2 separate regions of the Homo sapiens genome follow, and region 1 is linked to region 2. The links come from fine-mapping of genetic effects on gene expression. A gene starts in region 2. The other region holds a variant in brackets. All regions are shown on one strand. Distances are from middle to middle. Region 1 has its middle 42 kb from the start of LINC01733. Region 2 holds the start of ZNF337 (zinc finger protein 337).

Evidence for each region. PIP is the estimated chance that this variant, and not a neighbour inherited with it, causes the effect. A credible set is the group of variants that fine-mapping cannot tell apart.
Region 1: its variant is the best candidate, but not a certain one, in a credible set for the expression of ZNF337 in whole blood (TOPMed, PIP 0.63).

The regions. Positions count from the first base shown.
Region 1 is chr20:25,996,550-25,999,463 of GRCh38, reverse strand. No RefSeq gene overlaps it. Among named protein-coding and RNA genes, the nearest start is that of LINC01733, 42 kb to the right of the region's middle. RefSeq lists a silencer at 1-91. The variant G/T (reference allele first, on the strand shown) is at 1,251.
Region 2 is chr20:25,695,470-25,698,383 of GRCh38, reverse strand. ZNF337 (zinc finger protein 337) reads left to right here and starts at 1,531. Exons shown (of 5, transcript NM_015655.4): 1 at 1,531-1,625. It overlaps LOC107985400 (a long non-coding RNA gene), which reads right to left and starts at 1,343. Exons shown (of 2, transcript XR_007067557.1): 1 at 1,221-1,343. RefSeq lists an enhancer at 2,018-2,127.

The DNA.
Region 1 (2,914 bases), 300 kb before region 2:
GCTCCCTGTAACTTTCATCTCCCAGGTTCAAGTGATTCTCATGCCTCCACCTCCCAAGTAGCTTGGAATACAAGCGTCCACCACGCCCAGATAATTTTTGTGTTTTTTGTAGTGATGGGGTTTCACTATGTTGGTCAGGGTAGTCTTGAACTCCTGACCTCAAATGATCCACCCGGTTCAGTCTCCCAAAGTGCTGGAATTACATGCGTGAGCCACCACACCTGAGCTGTATATGCCATTGTATGATTGCAAATAATTATATGAATCTTGGAGAACATCATGGAAAGATGTTCATCATCTTGTTAACTGGTTATTTCAAGAGTGGAGCTGGAAGGGGAATACTGCCTTTCCTGTGTATTTATTTGTAATGTTTCATTTTCATTATGAACATGTATTATTTTAATATGTTTAAATATTAATAAACACAGGCAAAAATATGTAATTTTAATTCAAGCTGAAATCGTCAAGGCAATCATACATAACAGATGGAGCAAATAAAACATTTAAAATCCCTGAGTGAAAAGGAGGGGAGGCTGGGCATGGTGGCTCACGCCTATAATCCCAGCACTTTGGGAGGCCGAAACAGGAAGATCACTTGGGGTCAGAAGTTTGAGACTGCCTTGGCCAACTGAGACCCCTGGACTCGATTGGAATTGGTCCCACAAACTTTTTTTTTTGAGGGAGTCTCACACTGTCACCCAGGGTGGAGTGCAATGGGGCAATCTCGGCTCACTACAACCTCTGCTCCTGGGTTCAAGTGATTCTCCTGCCTCAGCCTCCCTAGTAGCTCGGACTTCAGGTGTCCGCCACAACACCTGGCTAATTTTTTTCTATTTTTAGTAGGGACAGGGTTTCACAATGTTGGTCAGGCTGGTCTCAAACTCCTGACTTCAGGTGATCCACCAGCCTCTCAAAGTGCTAGGATTACAGGTGGGAGCCATCACACCCCACCAATCCCACAAATTTAGGCATTATGATAATCGGAGCCACCATGCCCCACCAATTACACATATTTAGGCATTATGATATATTGTTACTTTTAGAATCACTTGGTTTTTATATTGTGTTTTTTCCCTTCCATTTGTTTGTTTATTTATTTATTTATTTATTGAGACAGAGACTCGCTGTGTCACCCAGCCTGGAGTGCAGTGGCGTGATCTTGGCTCACTGCAACCTCCACCTCCCGGCACTCCATCTCCACCACACTGGCAACTAACATGCCTCCTCAGGCCCTCTCAGGGTCTAGAGAG[G/T]GCGTCTGGAACAGACTGGGAAACTCCAGTAGGCAAAGTAAGGTGCCAGAAATAAAGACACCACCTGAAACATTCTCCATGTTCCCTCCACCCACTCCTCTCCCACCACTCTTCCATCTGGCTCCAACTCTGCCCTCTCCACAAGAGCCTCAGATTGAAATGTTGCAAGGAAGACAAAGATTCTCAAAGTCACAGGCTTGGGAATCTGAGCTATAAAGAAAAATGAGCCTCTGCTCCCCCAACTCCCCCATACTCCCCTGGGCACTGCTGCCCTACATGCACCCCCTCCTCCATAATTTGAACTGTCCTCCCAGAAGCTGGAGGGAGACTGCCCGCCTGTCAGGAAAGAAAGGACCAGCATGCGGCAAATGCCTGGGCTACATAGGAGCAGACGGCGAGATTAGCGCAGGGATTTAAGAAACAAGTGGCTCTCAGACCAAAGAAGACTTGCCCGAGATGGCACACTAAGCATTCATAGGGGTGTGCGCTGGACAGGAGCTTGCCAGTTACCCAAAGAATTGTCTGAGAAAGGCTCTGATCTGGCCCGAAAGGCCCTTGGTTCCCACGGCAACTCCTCAGCGTCTGGCAGTAATAGGCTTCTGTGCCCAGACTTTCTGGGTCTGGAAGTCCCCCTCTGCCAGCCTCTTGCAGCCCAGAGGCACCTCCCATTGGCGCCTGATGGGTTAAGGAAGCTGTTCTTCTAGCTGTGACAGATCAAGCCTGAGGACCTCTCGTGTGTCTTTCTTAGTTGTTTCTTCCCGCCCACCTGCCACTCAAAGCCACAACCCACTTGCATGCCCCCGAGTGGACCCCTTAAAGCGACCATCTAGATCTGAATTGCGCTGAGGGAATGGTCAGCTTCATTCCCATTAGATGGCTTGGCCCAAAGGAACTAGCGATCGCCCAGACAAAAATGTCTTCCTAAAAGCTGGATGTGTCTGTGGTCTCTAAGAGGCAAAACCAAACCCAAAAGGAAAAGCCAACCCACCCACCCCCACCATAAAACAAAAACCAAAACCGCCGACAACCCATCTTTCACATGAGGAGTCCGTGAGAAGGGCCTCTCCAGCCAGGATCAGGTAAGGGAATCTGTGCCCTTGGCCGGACCCAGAACACCCAGTGGCAAGGAACTGACTGTCACACTCTGACCCCATAGAATTTCCACCATTGTCACACAGGTCAGGATGTGTCAGCCTGAGAGATGACACCACAAATCTGGCCTTCACAGATTGATTCCACACTCTCTCACTGATTCCACACACATCCCGCCACTGACACCAGATTCCCTCATCACTGACCCTACATACCCACAAGAATTGATTCCATGGATCTCATCACTATCCAAAAGACCACCCATCACTAATCTACAGACCCTCATCTCTCACCCCAGGGACCCCACAGATTCCCCATCCCTGATTCCAGGATCTATAGAACCTCATCTCTTACCCCCACAGACCTATTTATAAGAGGATACGTTCATGGAATACCATGTTGACCATTTTACACATCCATTGCGTGTGTGTGTGTGTGTGCTGATTAATGGACTTAGGTAAACTTTAGCATTTTGGTAGCCAATGCAGTTTTTCAATGCCTTTTCTTTTTCTTTCTTTTTCTTGTACAACTTTAAAGACCTTACTCCAGTAAGTGTGATTTGCAATTTATCA
Region 2 (2,914 bases):
TTCCTCAAAAGAATTAATAAATATATACATGATCCCGCAATCCCACTGCTGAGTATATATCCAAAAGAAAGGAAATCAGTATTTCAAGGATATATCTGCACTCTCATGTTTACTACAGCACTATCCAAAATAGTAAAGATATAGAATCAAAGTGTCTATCAACAGATGAATGGATAAGGAAAGTGTGGTACATTAACACAATGGGATATTAGCCAGTCATTAAAAGAATGAAATTCTGTCATTTTCAATAGCATGTATGAAAATGGAGGACATTATGTTAAGCGAAATGAGGCACAGCATGACAAATATCACATGTGCTCACTCATTTGTGGGGCTAAAAACGTGAACTCATGGAGATGGAGAGTAGAATGAGATAGTTAACAGAGGCTGGGAAGGATGGTGGGTAGAGGAGATAAAGAGGGACTTGTTAATCGATACAAAAATACAGTTAGAATGAATAAGATCTAGTAGTTGGTAGCACTATACAGTGACTATAGTTAAGAACAATTTTACTATATATTTAAAAATAAGAGAGAATTGGAAACTTCCTAAAACAAAGAAATGCTAAATGCTTGAGGGGATGGATACCCCAATCACCCTCATTTGACCATTAAACACTGTATGCCTGTATCAAAACATAACATGTACCCTATAAATATGTACAACTAATATTTATCCAGAATAATTAAAAATTTAAAAACCAAAAGAGAAAAAGCAAACAGCAAGTATACCTAGTAAAGGCCTGAAATATAAAGTCTACGTGGTTTGGCAAGCCACAAAAGATATCAGCATATTATACACCCTACATAATGAAAGAATTCTGGCATTGATGCATAATTAGATAAATGGGGGAACAATTAGAAATTGAAATGCAAATGTAAATTGAGTATACTGAATTATGTAGCTGAAACCTTAAATTATTTGGTAAAAGACTATATTTTTAATAAATTTAATGGGAAATTAATAAAATATTAGAAAATTTTAAAAATAATTGTATATTTACAGTGTGTACCTGGAGAAAAATTAAACCATTGAGAGATCTAAATGTGAATGATAAAACCACAAAATCCGTAGGAAAATCAGAGATCAAAAGTACTACATAGCAAAAAAAAGAAACAAAAGAAAAAAAAAAGACATACCCATAATCAAAAGACAGTGGGAAAATTATTTACCTATATCATAGAAATGGGAAAATATGCTTAATGTATGTATAGGGCTACCTAAATAAAAGAAATCGCCGGTTCTGAAAGGATCCCTCCACGTCCAAACGACCATAGGCTCGCCCCACCTGTCAGAGAGGAGTCCTTCCGAGAAGTCCTTCCAAGGATTCCGGGTCGCGCAGTCCCGGGTGGACCGCTATGACCAATATTCTGGGGCGTGTACCTGGACGACTCCCGAGGACTCTGGGGAGTGTAGTCCACCGAGGGGATGCGACGCGCAGGGTCGCATAGCCTCCGGGCCGCGCCGAGGATGCTGGGTAGCGTAGTCCCGGCCGCGCTGAGGATTCTGGGTAGTGTAGTCCCGGGCGGCGCAGAGCGTTCCAGATCCCTGGGCGTCAGCGAGCCGTGAGATGCGTGGTCCACCATCGGTGACCTCACCGCCTCGGTTCGCCCTCAGCCGCCCCGGTGAGCTGCGCTCCTGCGGGTCCCTCTCTGCAGCGCGCCCTTCCGGCGCAGGAAGAAGGGCCGGGAAGGCCTGGGACGTGAGGGCGCTGCTGGGGCCGTAGCGCGCGCTCCTCCAGGCCCGGCGTCTCCGCGTTCTGGGGAGGGGCGGAGACCCAGGCCGCGCCTTGAAGTGGGCGGTGGGGCTGCGGCTTGCCGAGCGCCCCGGGTCTGGGCCGCCACTCAGTCTCCGTTCCCGGTTGCGTGTAGTGGCGGCTCGGGCGGTGAACAGCCCGGATTTCACAGGGGCGCCGAGCAACCCAGGTCCTCTTGTGCCAGGGTCGCCGCTCCTCGGGTGGGGACGGGCCAGCGGCCTAGCGAGCTGCCACGGGGGTCTTTTGGCCGGAGGTGGAGGGGGACTCGGCCACAGCCAGGGTCCACTGGTGGGGTGGGGGTTACAGCCATGAGACGGATGGGCTAGGTCCGACTCGGGTTCCCTCCGACTCTGATGCTCCAGACTTTATTGTGGGAGGCGGGACAGGGGAGGACTTCGCCCGCGTGTTTTGGGGAAGGGCCGCTGCTTTGGGTTGGGAGCACCCCGCCTTGGGACGATCTTCCGCGGATAGGAGTGTAGGCCGGGACCAAATGTCCTCGCACGGGCACGTCTAGACGTGTTTTGGTGGGGGGGGGGGGGGATCTGCGTGGGGCAGCGTCCGCGGGAGGTGAGGTGGCTGTGGGGACCCAGGTGGCCTCTTCCCTGGGGCCTTGCTAATGACGGCAAAATCCGGGTTCTGCCAAAATATATTTAAAAAGGTTTATTCCTAGTCAGTATGAGTGACTGTGGCCCAGGTTATTCAGCCTCAAGAGGTCCTGTGAAAGTGCCCGAGATGGTCAGGCTTGCAGGTTAATTTTATACAATTCAGGGAGACAGGAATTTCAGGTAAAGTCATAAATCAGGCTGAGCAGTGTGGCTCATGCCTGTAGTCCCAGCACTTTGGGAGGCCAGGAGTTCCAGAGCAGCCTGGGCAGCACAGCAAGACCCTGTCTCTACATGAAATTAGAAAAATAAAAAAATTAGCGGGGCGTGGTGTCCCATGCCTGTGGCCTCAGCTACTTGGGAGGCCCAGTCAGTTGAGTCCAGGAGGTGGAGGCTGTAACCAGCTATGTTGGCTGCACTGCACGCTAGCCTGGGTAACACAGCGAGATCCTGCCTCCAAAAAGAAAATCATAAATCAATAAGAGAAAGATATACACGGGTTCCTCCCAAAAAGCTGGTATATCTCCAAAGGGTTTACACCTCATGGGGGCACTTA